2 linked regions of the Homo sapiens genome follow. The protein of the gene in region 2 interacts with the protein of the main gene of each other region in a pairwise test. Each region holds a gene or a part of one and is shown on either strand. Other genes may lie near its edges.

Region 1 (7,741 bases), on a different chromosome or scaffold from region 2:
CATTATTTATTGTTTTATAGGTTCTGTGAGATTTATGCTTTAAGGAGGTTATAATTTGGTGTATTTCGAGGTTTTATTTCAATATTTAGAGCTCCTTTTTAGCAGTTCTTGTAGTGCTAGCTTGGTAGTGGCAAATTCTCTTGGCATTTGTTTGTCTGAAAGACTATCTTTCCTTCATTTATGAAGCTTAGTTTTGCTGGATGCAAAATTCTTAGCTGATAATTATTTTGTTTAAAGAGGCTAAAGATAGGACCCCAATCCCTTCTAGCTTGTAGGGCTTCTACTGAGAAATCTGCTGTTAATCTGATAGGTGTTCCTTTTTAGGTTATCTGATGCTTTTGCCTAAGAGCTTGTAAGATTATTTCCTTTGTCTTGACTTTAGATAACCTGAGGACTATGTGCCTAGGTGATGATCTTTTTGAGATGAATTTCCCAGGTGTTCTTTGAGCTTCTTATATTTGGATATGTAGATCTCTAGGAAGGCCAGAGAAGTTTTCCTCAATTATTCCCTCAAATATGTCTTCCAAACTTTTAGATGTATTTTCTTCCTCTGGAACACTAATTATTCTTGGGTTTGGTCATTTAACATAATCCCAAACTTCCTTGGGGCTTTGATCATTTTTAAAATTCTTTTTTGTCTTTGTTGGATTGGGTTAATACGAAAGCCTCATCTTTGAGCTCTGAAGTTCTCTTCTACTTGTTCAATTCCATTGTTGAAACTTTCCGATGCATTCTGCATTTCCCTAGGTGTGTTCTTCACTTCCAGAAGTTGTAATTGTTTTTTATTTATACTATTTATTTCTCTGGAGATTTTTTTTCATCCATATCCTGTATCACTCTTTAAATTTCTTTAAGTTCTCTGGTGTCTCCTTAAGTAACCTAATAATTGACCTTCTGAATTCTTTTTCTGGCAATTCAGAGATTTCTTCTTGGTTTGGATCCATTGCTACTATGCTAGTGTGATCTTTTGGGGATGTTAAAGAACCCTGTTTTGTCATATTACCAGAATTGTTTTTCTGGTTCCTCCTCATTTAGGTATAGACTATGTCAGAGGAAGGATCAGGGGCTCAAGGGCTGCTGTTCAGATTCTTTGGCCCCATGGGGTGCTCCCTTGATGTGGTGCTCTTCCCTTCCTCTAGGAATGGGGCTTCCTGAGAGCTGGACTGCAGTGATTGTTATTGCTCTTCTGGGTCTAGCAAACCAGTAGAGCTACTGGGCTCTGAACTGGTATTAGAGAGTGTCTGCAAAGAGTCCTGTGATGTGATCTGTCTTCAAGTCTCAGCCATAGATACCAGTACCTACTCTGATGGAGGTGGCAGGGGAGTGAAGTGGACTCTGTGTGGGACCTTGGTTGCAGTTTTGTTTAGTGTGTTGGTTTTCTCGAATTCCAGGTGTGCTGGTAGTAAAGCTGTCATGCGATTGGACTCAAGACCTCTGGTTAGCCAGGATGTTACAGGTGGTGGAATTAGCTGTTGTATTCTCTTTTCTTGGGGCAGAGTTGTTCTTTAATGAGTTGCTGTAATGGTTTCAGTTGGTTGGCCCCCAGCCAGAAGGTGATGCTTTCAAGACAGCATCAGCTGCAGTAGTATCAAGAAGATGTAAGCTTGCCCTAGGGTTGCCTGCATAAGTATTTGGGTTTCTCAGGCAGTGGGCAGGGCCATAGAGTTCCCAAGAGATTATGTCTTTTCTCTCAGAAAGACCATCAGGTGAAGGCAGGGTTAGGCATGTCTGAGAGCAGACTCTCTTTGGGTTGGGCTTGTTGTGGCCACTGTGGCGGATGGGGGTGTGGTTCTCAGGCCAATGGAGTTATGTTTCCAGGGGGATTACAGCTATCTCTGCTGCATCATACAGGTCACCAGGGAAGTGGGGGAAAGCCAGCAATAACAGGCCATACCCAGCTCCCACACAGCCAGAAGGGCCAGTCTCACTCCCACCATGCTCCACCAATAGCACCATGTTTATATCCAGGCAGTGTACGCAGGGTTGAGATTTTGCCCCAGGCTACAAGTCTCCCCACTGAGAAAGCAATCAGGGTTTTCAGGCTTCACCCCTCTCCGTCTGCCTTGGCTTCTGTGCTTGTATCTGCAGTATCTGCATTTCCCATTTGCCACCTCCCCTACACACCCCAGTCCAGGAAAATTCGTGTTCAGCTGCAAGTTTCATTCTCCCTGTGGTCTTTCCCCAATTCCACTGGCAGCCCTCCCCAAGGACCCCTGTGAGATAAAGTCAGAAATGGCTTCCTTGGTGGCCAGGAGTGCCTGCAGGCTCTTCTCGCTGCTTGTTCTACTTTTATATTTCACTCAGCTCTCTAAATTAATTTCAGCTCTAGGTAAGGTTAAACCCTTCTCCCGTGATCTGGATTTTCAGGTTCCCCAGTGGACTTTCCCCGTCACACTTCGGGCACTCACAGGTTTTCCTCTGTCTCATGGAATTTGCAGCAGCAAGCTGCTTTTTTCAAAGGGTCTGTGAATTCTTTTGGTTTTCCTGGTATGTTCCTCTAGTATTTCTCAGAGCAAAAGTTCACGATGTGAGTTTCCAGGCACTGTTCTGTCAGTCCAATTGGGAGCTGCAAGTTAGTCCTGTCTCCTATCCACCATTTTCCAAAATCAGCATATTGAAGAGGTATCTGCATTCCTATGTTTACTGCAGCACTATTCACAATGGCCAAGATATGGAATTAACCTAATTGTCCATCAATAGATGAATGGATAAAGAATATGTGGTATCTATACACAACGGAATATTATTCCACCATAAAAAAGAACAAAATCCTGTCATTTGCATCATCATGGATGGAAATGGAGGGACATTATGTTAAGTAAAATAAGCCAGAATTCAGAAAGACAAATAACACATGTTCTCACTCATATGTGGGAGCTAAAACAATTGATCCCATAGAAGAAAAGAGTGATTGTAAAAAGATATTACAAAATTAAATAAAAATTTAAAAAAATAAAGAAGAGTGGAATGGCAGTTACCAAAGGCTTGGAGGGATAGAAGGGACTGGGCAATAGAAAGAGATTGGTTAATGGGCACAAAATTACAGTTAAATAGGAGGAATAATTTCTCATGTTCTATAGCACAATACGGTGACTACGGTTAAAAACAATTCATTGTATATTTCAAAATAGCTAGAAGACAGAATTTTGAATGTTTCTAACACAAAGAGATGATAAATGTTTGAGATCATGGATGTTCCAATTACTCAGATATGTTCATTACACATTTGTATGCTAGCATCAAAATATCACCTGTACCCCATAATGTACAACTATTATGTATTCATATAATTATTCTTTAAAAAGTCCACCAACTTTCTTTTTGGTGGTAGAGTTCAAGTCCTGAGGTGTGATGTCTAAAGCCGAACAGAAACTTTAAGTATAAATTAGTCATATCAAAACCTGTTAATCTTTTCTGAGACTGTGACTCCATTTGCATCAAATACTTCTGCAAGTCTCAGTGTGGCCTGTTATTTGGCACTGCAGTGACCAACACTGGTTTGCCTGAGACCGAGGGGTTTTCTGGGATGTGGGACTTTCATTGCTAAAACCAGGACAGTACTGAGCAAACTGGAATGGCTGGCTACCCTACTTGGCACTCAAATATTTGCTGAATGAAAGACAAATCTAATTCTATCGAATATGTGACACTTCGACATGAGAAATGGGTAGAGTCTTCCGTTGTCATTTACTCAATTTTCCCAACCAATTTGAATCTTGAAAATTGGCATTTCCTTGAACAAGGAATTTTAAATTCTTTATGTTCGGATACCTTTGTATCATCTATAATCAGATGACACCATAATTTATATCCCCTGCCTAATCTCTCCTTTGGGGTTGTAAACTCATATAGCCAACTGCTTACTTGGCTTCTCTACTTGAATATTTAACAGCAAATTGGTCACAATTGTCCAAAGACAGGTGTTAGTTTCTCCCCTAAAACCTGCTACTCTCCAAGGCTTCTCTATCTCAATTAATGATACTCCCATCCAATTAGTTGCTTAAACCAAAACATAGGTAAGTCCCCGATTCCTTCCTTTCCCTTATATCTTACATCTAAATCACCAGTAAGTCCTGTTGATTCTGTCACAAAAAGAAATCCTGGATCCATCTACTTCTCTCCATCTCCACCATCAGTACTTAATTCAACAAATCTTTATTGAGTACCTAACATCTGTAATGCACCAGCATTATTCCAGGAGCTAGCAACACAGGGAACAGAAATGACAAAAAACCCTGCCTTCATGGACTTTATACAAACCACTACCATTTCTTATTTAGACTAATGTAATAAGCTTTCTAACCGGTCTCCCTGCTTCATCCCTTGTCCCCATCCCACCACCTCCAGGAATTCTCTTTACAGCAAGCTAGAATAATCTTCAAAAATATTTTTCCCTACTTAAAACTTTCCAGGCTGGGCACGGCGGCTCACGCCTGTAATCCCAATACTTTGGGAGGCCAAGGCGGGCGGATCGCCTGAGGTCAAGAGTTCGAGACCAACCTGACCAACATGGAGAAATCCCATCTCTACTAAAAATACAAAATTAGCCAGGCGTGCTGTCGTATGCCTTTAATCCCAGCTACTCAGGAGGCTGAGGCAGGAGAATCGCTTGAATCCAGGAGGCGAAGGTTGTGGTAAGCTGAGATTGCATCACCGCACTCCAGCCTGGGCAACAAGAGCGAAACTCCATCTCAAAAAAAAAAAAAAAAAAAAAAATTCCCAGTGGCTTCTCATCTCACTTAAAATAAAGTCTAAGTCTTTTGCCACATTCCTCAAGACCCCATGTGTCCTGGTCTCTGCCTCCCTATGCAGCTTATTTCTGTTTCACGGTTACTTCTGCTGGAAATCCTTTACACACATTAATCCTTCTGCCTGAAACACTCTTACCTGAGAGTTTCAGGTACCTGAGATGTTTCAAGTCACAGCTCAAATGTCATCTCCTCAGAGAGGACTTCCCTGACCACTGCCTGCCATGCAAAGTACTTTTTATTCTATTACCTGGTCTTATTTTCTTCTTTGCACTCATCTTGTTTTCACATCTACTGGCTGTTTAACCTACTAGAATGTAAGCTCTATGTGAGGTGGGATTATATCTACTACTTTGTTCACTACTGTTACTTCAGGGCCTGAAATGGAACCTGGGGAGGGAAGCAGAGAGGCATGAAGAAAAGTGAATCTTACATAGCAGCTCAGCATATCTCTTTAACAACTTCTACAATTGCCTATTCTGACGACCACTGACTATTGAGTCTCTGTAACTTGTTCAAGTTCTTTCAATGCTCTACAAAGGAGAACTAGTTAAGGATATAAACATAAAGAAAATTCAGAATCTTAATAACTACTTTCGATGTGTCATAAAATTAAACTACACCACAAGATTCCAAAAGATAACACCAAAATATTCATTTGAAGTAAAAACAAAAAAAAATACTGAGACTCCTCTCCTGTCACAGAAGAAACCCCTTCTGTGTGGCAGCTCAACTCAGTTTTTCTGTTTACTTCAGACTCTTTTCATTTCCTACTACAGACAGGTAGCTAGACTCTATTAGTATTCATGTGTGCTCACAAATCAGGTTTTAGCTAAAAGCCTAAAGTGAACCACATTTGGTCCTTGGGTTGCATGTATGACCCTTATTTTAAAGAACTGAGACTCGTAAGAATTTCTCTGTGGAGCGTTGTTACATTTTACTGAAATTTTAAACTATACTTGTTGTGATTTTTAAATGTCCAATCAATGAAGAAATAACTACTTCTACTGATTCCCAAAATGATAAATTAAAAAACATTATCTTATTCAAACAATTATTCACCAACATGATAATGGCTGCTTTGTGCATGAAGAGGGGAGAGGAAATCCTTGAACATACTTACCTCTTCAAAGCCCATTTCAAATAAACATTCAACAGCTCCTCTGACAGGCAAGAGTCTAGTAGAAAAGGCTGTGTTTCCAATCCGGATGGATCTATATTTTTCATCATTAGGGTTTCTGACAAAAAACAAAAGTTTGATTATATATAAAAAAAACCAGGTCATAGTTCTTCAAAGACTTTACTTTCAACAAACATGACCTAGGTATACCTTTATAGTCACCTGATTTTCTTTCTTCCCTAAACCAATGGTTGTTTTTACTATAAGTAAAAACAGTAAATTACATTCTGTGCTGTTAAGGTACATTTTTTTTTTTTGAGATGGGGGGGGTCTCGCTTCAGTTTAAGATACATTCTTTTTTTTTTTTTTTTTTTTTTTTTTTGAGAGAGGGGTCTTGCTCTGTTTCCCAAGCTGGAGTGCAGTGGCGTGACCTCGGCTCACTACAGCCTCCACCTCCCAGGTTCAAGCAATTCTCCCACCTCAGCCTCCCAAGTAGCTAGGATTACAGGGGTGCACCACCACTCCTGGCTAATTTTGCATTTTTTAAGTAGAGACAGGGTTTCACCATGTCGACCAGGCTGGTCTCGAACTCTCGACCTCAGGTGATCCACCCGCCTCAGCCTCCCAAAGTGCTGGGGATTACAGGCGTGAGCCACCGCACCTGGCCCAAGACATATTCTTGACACAGACAGTATGGCAATAAAAGGAAGACATAAATTTCTTTTACCATAATTAAGATTTTGAATAGTACACTTGGGACAAGTAACCAGCACATGAAAAGTTTTGGTTTGAGATTTTTAATTACTTTGATAAATCAGAATTGTTTAAAAAAAATTAAAAGAATGTAAGGTTAAGCTAATCATAGTATTATATTCAAAAGACCCTCAGAACATAGTTTAGGATGATAAGTTTCATACCTGACACCAACTGCCTTAAAGTGATAGTGACTTCTTTAAGTACTATGTTAAGGAGGATTCTGAGGCAGTATCTGGGATCCATAGGAAGATGTACTTCCATAAGAAGCCACCTGCCCTGGGGTATGATATGGTGAGTAGGCAAATGCTAGCAAATGACTTATCAACTTTGTCCTATCTACACATGTTCTCTAGGTATTCTGACGTAAAAACAAAACCAAAAACCAAATATTTTAATTTTATAAGTTTTAACAAATTTTGCATTTGTTTTTCACCAGTCAATTGCCTATTGGCCAAAGTGTCATAAATACTAAATGAATGTTTTTAAACTTTTCCCTAATTTCAAAAATCATGTTTATTACAGAATATTCAGAGACAAATGCTCTATTTTTTTTGCTATTCAAAATGTCCACAGATTGGTGCTAATCTACAAATTATTTGTTACCCATACACAAGTAGTACAGAAATTTTTTCTTTGTTTGTTTACAAGTGCATAAAAATGAAGCAAGAAGTAGAGAAATTGAATGTTCGGTATACAGCAATTTGATATTGCCATGAAATTTTCAGTGTATTTTACAAAAGTTATAGGTCCATAAGGGATTGGAAATTAAAACAAAAACATTGTTCTTTACTATATGTAATTTGAGAATCACAGATGGTTGTGAAATACAAAGAAAATTTTATTCTCAACTCTTTATTCTGTGTATTAGATTAGGGTTTCTCAGTCTCAGCACCATTAACATGTGGGGCCTTTTCTCAGTGGAGTTTCCTTGTGCACTGCAGAACATTCGCATTCCTGGCTTCCATGCTACACTGTCTCACAAGTGAGCCTCTCTTTCTTATCACTTAAGAAAACTGAACTATAAAATAATCCTACATTTATCAAAGCTAGTTTTCGATAAATGGGGCATCTTTTCCTGACACTCAATGTATTTCACAGGGTGATAAACATGTCAGTA
Region 2 (8,242 bases):
CACTTTATGGCGTGTACTTCTACCCCAGTCAAATTGAAAACAAAACAAAACAAAATAATAGTAGTTTCCTACCAGAGGTGTCTGAGAAGATGGGCAGAGAGGGAGAAGATATTTGGGATCGGGTGCTTGTTGGGATGCCAGGGAGCAAGGGACTTACTGCCAGAGTCGCCTCTTGGTGCACCCAAAAAAGTACCAGGAAGATGAACAGGAAGGGGCCTCAAAAGACAGAGGGAGCTGGCGAAGGGCTGAGAGAAGTGCAAAGGATGGAATGCTACAGGGTAGAAAGGAACCCAGTTTCATGAAAACCCAGTTTGATGAAAACAGATTTGGTTTTGGCCAAAAACAAAAAAATAATCCACCTTTAAATGTTTACTGTAGGCTGGGCAAGATGGCTCACACCTGTAATCCCAGCACTTTGGGAGGCTGAGGTGGAACACCTGAGATCAGGAGTTCGAGACCAGCCTGACCAACATAGTGAAACCCCATCTGTACTAAAAATACAAAAATTAGCCGGGCATGGTGGTACATGCCTGTAATCCCAGCTACTTGGGAGGCTGAGGCGGGAAAATTGCTTGAACCCAGGAGGTGGAGGTTGCAGTGAGCCGAGATCATACCACTGCACTCCAGGTTGGGTGACAGAGCGAGATTCTGTTTCTTTTTTTCCTTCTTTTTTTTTTTGAGATGGAGTTTCACTCTTGTTGCCTAGGCTGGAGTACAATGGCTTGATCTCGGCTCACCGCAACCACCGCCTCCCGGGTTTAAGTGATTCTCCCTCCTCAGCATCCCAAGTAGCTGGGATTACAGGCATGCACCACCACACCCGGCTTATTTTGTATTTTTAGTAGAGCTGGGGTTTCTCCATGTTGGTCAGGCTGGTCTCGAACTCCCGACCTCAGGTGATCCACCAGCCTCAGCTTCCCAAAGTGCTGGGATTACAGGCATGAGCCACCACGCCCAGCCAAGATTCTGTTTCAAAAAAAAAAAAAAAAAAGAGTTTATTGTAAAGCAGCACCTTGAGGTAATTCTGCAAGTAGAAATTGAGTGCCTTCCATGTGTCCGGGCTAGGCATGGGGCCAGGAATCTGTGACTCTAAGCAGCTGCTTGCTGGGATGTAAAAGTGGGAGGAAGGGAACACGTTGGCAACTAGAACCACAAGGAAAAGCTGCATTCTGTCAGGGAAGATCCCTAGCCCTTGAGCGGGGCTGAGGCTGCGGGAGGTAGAAGACAGTTCAGAACAGGGATGGGGGCGTGTTGGGGAATGGAGGAGTCATGTTGGCTTCTCAGACTGGGTAGTGACAGCTTTGGCTAGAGGAGAGGAATTTCCCTCCCCCAGCCTGGCAGGGCTCTGAGTAGGGCTGAGCTGGGAAGGGTAGGGCAACACCTCTCCCTTTGGGCTTTATCAAAATTCCACTGCAGTGAATGCTAAATCTGCCAGAGCCCAGAAGTGCCATTTAGGCCATGACACCAGAAATCCAGATTCAGTTAATTTAGTGAGTTTTTAGGGATGAGGTTGAGGTACTAGGGAATTGGGATAGTGAGGAGGTTGACCTTGAGCAGACATTCAAATTTCTAACAAGCCGGCTGGGCGCAGCGGCTCACGCCTGTAATCCTAACACTTTGGGAGGCCAAGGTGGGAGGATCATTTGAGGTCAGGAGTTCAAGACCAGCCTTACCAACATGGCGAAACCCTGTCTCTACTAAAAATACAAAAAAATAGCCAGGCATGGTGGTGGGCACCTACAGTCCCAGCTACTCGGGAGCCTGAGGCAGGAGAATCGCTTGAACCCGGCAGGCGGAGGTTGCAGTGAGCCGAGATCGCGCCACTGCACTCCAGCCTGGGCGAGAGAGTGAGACTTTGTCTCAGAAAAATAAAAAATAAGTAAATAAATAAATAAAAATAAGTTTCTAACAAACCCTTTAAAGATTCTGGTACAAGGAGGTTGGGGGGAACTCCATCTAATCCTCTCATACAGGTGACTCCTGGTAAACCAAGAAGCAGCTCTTCCTCTAACCTAATCTAAATCCTTTCTGCTGCCACTGTAATCACCCCGCCTTGCCTGCCTTTTTTGGTCAGGAATAAAATATCCCTAAACTTTTTTTATTTCTGCTGTTGGATTTAGGCCAGTGAAAATAAGGCACCCCAGGGGTTAAGTGAAATTTGAGCTTATCATTATTTCAGTTCATTCCTTGCTACCCTGGACCTTGTTGTCTCCTCCCACTGTGAACTATGAATTTAGAGGAGCTTCTGGGTCACTCAGGCAACGGAAGACAGGACTGCCATTCTCCTGTTTATTTATTCAAAATGTGTTTATACCAAGTGGATGACTATACGGAGCAACTGAAACTCTCCTACACTACTGTTGGGAACGTTTAGTTGTGCAATCACTTCGGAAAACAGTTTGGTAGTTTCTTGTAAAGTTAAAACATAGACTTACCGTATGATCCAGCAATCCCACTTCCAAGTGTTTATCTGAGAGAAATAAAAACATATATCCCCAAAGACTTGCACAAGAATGGTTACTACTGCTTAAACTAGAATCAATTTTTTTTTTTGAGATGGAGTCTTGCTCTGTCACCCAGGCTGGAGTGCAGTGGTGCCATATCAGCTCGCTGAAACCTCTGCCTCCCAGGCTCAAGCAATCTTCTCACCTTAGCCTCCCAAGTAGCTGGGACTACACGCATGAGCCACCACGCCTGGCTACATTTTTGTATTTTTTGTAGAGACAGGGTTTTGTTATGTTGCCCAGGCTGGTCTGGAACTCCTGAGCTCAGGCGATCCACCCACCTTGACCTGCCGAAGTGCTGGGATTGTGGGCGTGAGCCACCATGCCTGGCCAAAAACTAGAACCAGCTCTAATGTTTGTCAGTATAAATTGTGGCATATCCATGTGCTATGCTACTTGGCACTGAAAAGGAATAGACTTGATATTATCAACAGCATGGATAAACCTCAAAAACATTATGCTGAGTTAAAACACCTTATTCATAAAAGAACACACTATATGGTTATCTTTTTTCTTTATATATACTTAATACATTAATATACTTAATTCATATTAATACACATTTTTTCTGATTGCTTTTTAACTGTTAATGATTGTGCTTTCTTTTGAACTCCAGTAAGTTTTGTTATTAAAATGTAACATACAATGTAAAGTGCTTAAGATATAGGTGTGTAGCTTAATAACTATTTACTAATTAATCCATCTGTGTTAATCACTTTGCTGATCAAGATATAAACATTTCTAGAAAATCTTTCTCATATCTCCTTACAGGCTATATACCCTCTGAATGGAACCAGTTACTTACTTCTCTCACTTTAGGTTAATTTTCCCTGGTTTTAAACTTTATATGTTTGGAATCACACAAGTTATATTGCATATTTAAGCTAAATATTTTATCTTGTTATAAATATTGCTTTGAGACGGAGTTTTGATTTTGTTGCCCAGGCTGGAGTGCAGTGGCTCAATCTCGGCTCACTGCAACCTTCACCTCCTGGGTTCAAGCGATTCTCCTGTCTCAGCCTCCCAAGTAGCTGGGATCATAGGCGCCTGCCACCACGGCCAGCTAATTTTTGTATTTTTAGTAGAAACGGTGTTTCACCATGTTGGCCAGGCTGGTCTTGAACTCCTGACCTCAGGTGATCCACCAGCCTCTGCCTCCCAAAGTGTTGGCATTACAGGCGTGAGCCACCGCGCCCAGCCTGTTAGATGCTTTTCTTGCTTAGTACTATCTCATTAACATTTTGCAATTATATTATATTATATTATATTATATTATATTATATTATATTATATTATTTTTGAGACGGGGTCTTTCTCTGTCCCCCAGGCTGGAGTGCGGTAGCATGATCAGGGCTCACTCCAGCCCTGCCTCCTGGGCTCGAGGGATCCTTCCACCTCAGCCTCCCAAGGAGGTGGAACTACAGGTGCGTGCCACCACGCCTGGCTAATTTTTGTATTTTTTTTGTAGAGATATGGTTTCATTATATTGCCCAGGCTGGTCTCTAATTCCTGAGCTCAAGAGATCCACCCGCCTTGGCCTCCATATTTTGCAATTATAATCTGCAATGGAATCATAATTTTAAATTGCTGTATTGTTTGTAATATGTGCTTGGTTATACTTATATAATTATAAGTTGGTTTGTAATATGTGCTTGGTTATACTTATATAATTATTCTCTCCTTTATTATACATGAGGTAAGAGAAGCTCAGGGAATCCATTCAGGCAGCAAGTGGAGAAACTAGCTCTCAAACCTGCATCTCAGGCTCTCATTCTTCCACTGCAAAAAAGCAAAGTGCTCAAAAAATATGGTCACAGATCTGCAGAAGTCTTGCACAAGGGCATTATCATAGCAATAAGAATGACTAATAAGTATTAACGGCCCATGAGAAAAGAACAAATACCATTAATTATCTCAATATATTAAGCATATTAGTAATGTTTGTACAGAATTATTCATGCAAATATTATTAGCCTGTGTCGGGGACAGTTGCTAAACTCAGCAACAGGCTCACAGCTCAGCTTCGTGCCTCTGGTTCCAGATGTGCAGGGGCCAGGGCTTCCAGGGACACGCCCCCGTGGGCCTCCAGGGAGCCAATCGACGCGCAGAAGGCGGGGCCCTGGGAGCGACAACGGTGTTATCCAATGGGCCGACAGCTGGAGCCGCCCCTGGCCAATGGGCGCGCTCCTCCGCGATGGGCGGAAGTGGTGAGGCAGCTCTGAGGGCCGTTGTTCAGTGCGGGGTCTGACAGAGGAGGCTCCGTGTCTGCAGCTAGTGTGTCAACTCAGCGTTTCTCCTCTCGTCCCTGGTGAGGTGTAGCGGCGGCACGCGGCTGGAGATCCCCTGTGGCCTCCAGTTTAGGAAGGGTCCAGCATCCCAAGGGAGGGGTGTGTGGGCGAGGGGTCTCTGGGCCCGGGGTCGCGGCTGTGAGGAGAGGATGCCCGCGCGGCGGCATCTCAGGCACCTGGAGGAGGCCGCGCTTTCTCCTCAGGGAACCGGCGCCTTGGCAGCCCCCGGCGACGCCGCCCCCTTCGCGGCCTAGGTTGGTCTGGTGAGCCGGGAAGCGGGCGTCGTTCGCAGCGCCGCTGTGACCACCGCGTCCCGGGCGGAGCTGGGCTCAGTGCCGGCCTGGGCCTAGAGTCCGAGCCTCGAGCTGCCGGCGTGGGGGGTCGCGAGTGGCCTAATGCGGCCTCGAAGCCGAAGGACCCGAGTCCGAGCTCGCACTCCGACCCGCTGGTGCTGTGGAAAACTCAGGTGGCCTTCCGCTTTCGTAGCCTCTAAAGTGGGGACCAAGACTTTCACCTCTTAGGATTGTAGTCGGGATTAAAAGATTTTCCCGGTAAGCGTTTGGCAACTGCTATTATTTGAGAAGCCGCTTACTTCTTCACTCCCCATCACCGACCTTCCTGGGGACGGGGGCGATTGGAAACTGCCTTGGGGTATCTGGACCCGGCAGGGGAAGCTCCGCCGCCTCGGGCAGAGGGACGGTCCCCTCTGCGGACTAGAGAGATCTAGCTGACCCCCAACAGGCTCCTTATAAGCTTGAAGACTTTTCTGTGCCTCAACTCTTCCGTGCATTCGCCCGTTTCCTTGACCCTTTGAAGTATTGTCAGTCCTCTGCCTGAAGAATCTGAGGCCCAGAGAGGTTAAATCTGGCAGAACCAGCCAGACCTTGACCCCCAGAGGGGGACCCTGCAGGCTACCCCCAGTCTCCTTGCATCTAGAAAAGCAAGCACCTGCTACATCTGAGCTCTGGCCTTAGAGTTGGCCAGAGTGGGCTGGAATAGAGCACACCTGAAATCAGTCGGACAGCCTTCCTTAGTTGCCATTTCATATCAGAGTGAATATCTTTTTTTTTTTTTGAGATGGAGTCACCTTCTGTTGTTCAGGTTGGAGTGCAGTGGCGAGATCTCAGCTCACTGCAGCCTCCGCCTCCTGGGTTTAAGTGATTCTCTTGCCTCAGCCTCCTGAGTAGCTGGGATACAAGCGCCCGTCACCACGCCCAACTAATTTTTGTATTTTTAGTAGAGACTTGGTTTTGCCATGTTGGCCAGGCTGGTCTCGAACCCCAGACCTCCAGTGATCTGCCCACCTCGCCCTCCCAAAGTGCTGGGATTACAGGCGTGAGCTGCTGCGCCCAGCCCAGAATGGGTGTCTTGAATTATGTCATTCCCTAGTTTAAAGCCCTTCAGTGGTTTACCATTGAGCTTGGAATCGAATCCAATATTCTTTCTGTCTGATATGACAAGACCTTCTTGAGTCATTCCCCTTTTTTATTATGCTCTTCCAGATCTGCCTTTACTTTCTCTTTCATTGCTTTTAGGCCTTTTGCCCTTCCCACTGCCTGGATGGATTTCCCCGCATTCCCATCCTCTATCTTTGTCTTTTCGTGGTTGGCTCTTGTACTTCAGTTCTTAATTTAAATGTCGTCTCCCCAGAAAGTTCTTCCCTGACCACTCTTATCTACCTAAAGTAGATTTGCCTCTATTCCGCCCCCATTTATTTGTCAGTATACTTTTCCATCACAATACTCAAGTTATATGTATTTTTTTGCTTATTGTTTTTCTCTACCACTAAATCGCTTTATCAGAGACTATATTTCCTTATTTTGTAAAGTATTTTTAGTGCCAGGGCACAGTGGCACACAGTATGGTCTTCTTTTTCTTTGAGACAGGGTCTCACTCTGTCACCCCGGCTGGAGTGCAGTGGTGTGATCACAACTCACTCACTGTAGCCTCGACCTCCTGGGCTCAAGCCTCCCAAGTAGCTGGGACTACCTCAGCCTCCCACCCCAGCCTCCCAAGTAGCTGAGATTACAGGCATGTGCCACCATACCCACCTAATTTTTTGCTTTTTTGTTTTTTGTTTTTTTTGAGAGGGAGTCTCGCTCTGTCGCCCAGGCTGGAGTGCAGTGGCGTGATCTCGGCTCACTGCAAGCTCTTTTTAGTAGAGACTGGGTTTCACCATGTTAGGCAGGATGGTCTCGATCTCCTGACCTTGTGATCCACCTGTCTCGGCCTCCCAAAGTGCTGGGATTACAGGCATGAACCACCGCACCCGGCTGCTTATTTTTTATAAAGGCAGGGTCTTACTATGTTTCCTGGCTGGCCTTGAACTCCTGAGCTCAAGTGATCCACCCACCCCAGCCTTCCAGAGTGCTGGGATTACAGGTGTGAGACACTGCACCTGGCCCACAGTATTGTCCTTTTTTTTTTTATTTTTATTTTTTGAGACAGAGGCTCACTCTGTTGCCCAGGCTGGGGTGCAGTGGTGTGATCCTGGCTTACTGCAACCTCCACCTCCCGGGTTCAAGCAATTCTGCTTCAGCCTCCCTAGTAGCTGGGACTACAGGCACCCGGCTAATTTTTTTATTTTTAGTAGAGAGGTGTTTCGCCATGCTGGCCAGGCTGGTCTTGAACTCCTGACCTCAAGTGATCCGCCCACCTCAGCCTCCCAAAGTGCTGGGATTACAGGCATGAGCCACTGGACCCAGCCTCAAAGTATTGTCTTAATTAAGCATGTTGAACAAATGACTAAATACATGTTTTGAAAAGTGGCAACTCGCTTGATAATGCCAAAACCTTTAAAGAACCCTACTGGGGGCAGGATTTAAGACCATTTTTGTATCATGGAAAGGAATAATCTAAACTAAACAATGGTAGTAAAGTTGCCAGTGCTTTGCTTTCTGCATTGACATCTTGTTTAAAAAGCAGGAGAAACTTTATAGTGAAGAAATTTGGCAGACACCATATCAACTATGTGATCATGGTTTACATCAATAGTAAAATAAGACTGTTGACATCATGTACCTTCTGATATAAGGCACTGAGATGAGCACAACATGATTTCTATGGTGTTCTTGCCAAAAATATATAACCTGAATTTAATCATGAGAAAATATCAGACAAACCCAAATTGAAGGATATTATATAAAATAACTAGCTGGCTGGGCACGGTGACTCATGCCTGTAATCCCAGCACTTTGGGAGGCTGAGGCTGGCTGGTGGATCATATGAGGTCAGGAGTTTGAGACCAGCCTGGTCAACATGGTGAAACTCCATCTCTACTGAAAATACAAAAATTAGCTGGGCATGGTGGTGCACACCTGTGGTCCCAGCTACTCAGGAGGCTGAGGTCGAGGTTGCAGTGAGCCGAGATCGCAGTGAGCCGAGATCGCACCACTGCACTCCAGCCTAGACAGCAGAGTGAGACTCTGTTTAAAAAAAAAAAAAAAAAAA

The links.
Region 1: the proteins of TRAFD1 (region 2) and NGLY1 interact in binary tests that used the Homo sapiens proteins (3 or more experiments, as listed by UniProt).

The regions. Positions count from the first base shown.
Region 1 is NC_000003.12:25,772,703-25,780,443, forward strand, and holds part of NGLY1 (peptide-N(4)-(N-acetyl-beta-glucosaminyl)asparagine amidase), read right to left. Parts: intron 5,987-7,741; coding exon 5,872-5,986; intron 1-5,871. UniProt on the Homo sapiens protein: Specifically deglycosylates the denatured form of N-linked glycoproteins in the cytoplasm and assists their proteasome-mediated degradation. Cleaves the beta-aspartyl-glucosamine (GlcNAc) of the glycan and the amide side chain of Asn, converting Asn to Asp.
Region 2 is NC_000012.12:112,120,807-112,129,048, forward strand, and holds the start of TRAFD1 (TRAF-type zinc finger domain-containing protein 1), read left to right. Parts: upstream 1-4,753; 5' UTR 4,754-4,812; exon of another isoform or gene 4,813-5,343; intron 5,344-8,242. UniProt on the Homo sapiens protein: Negative feedback regulator that controls excessive innate immune responses. Regulates both Toll-like receptor 4 (TLR4) and DDX58/RIG1-like helicases (RLH) pathways.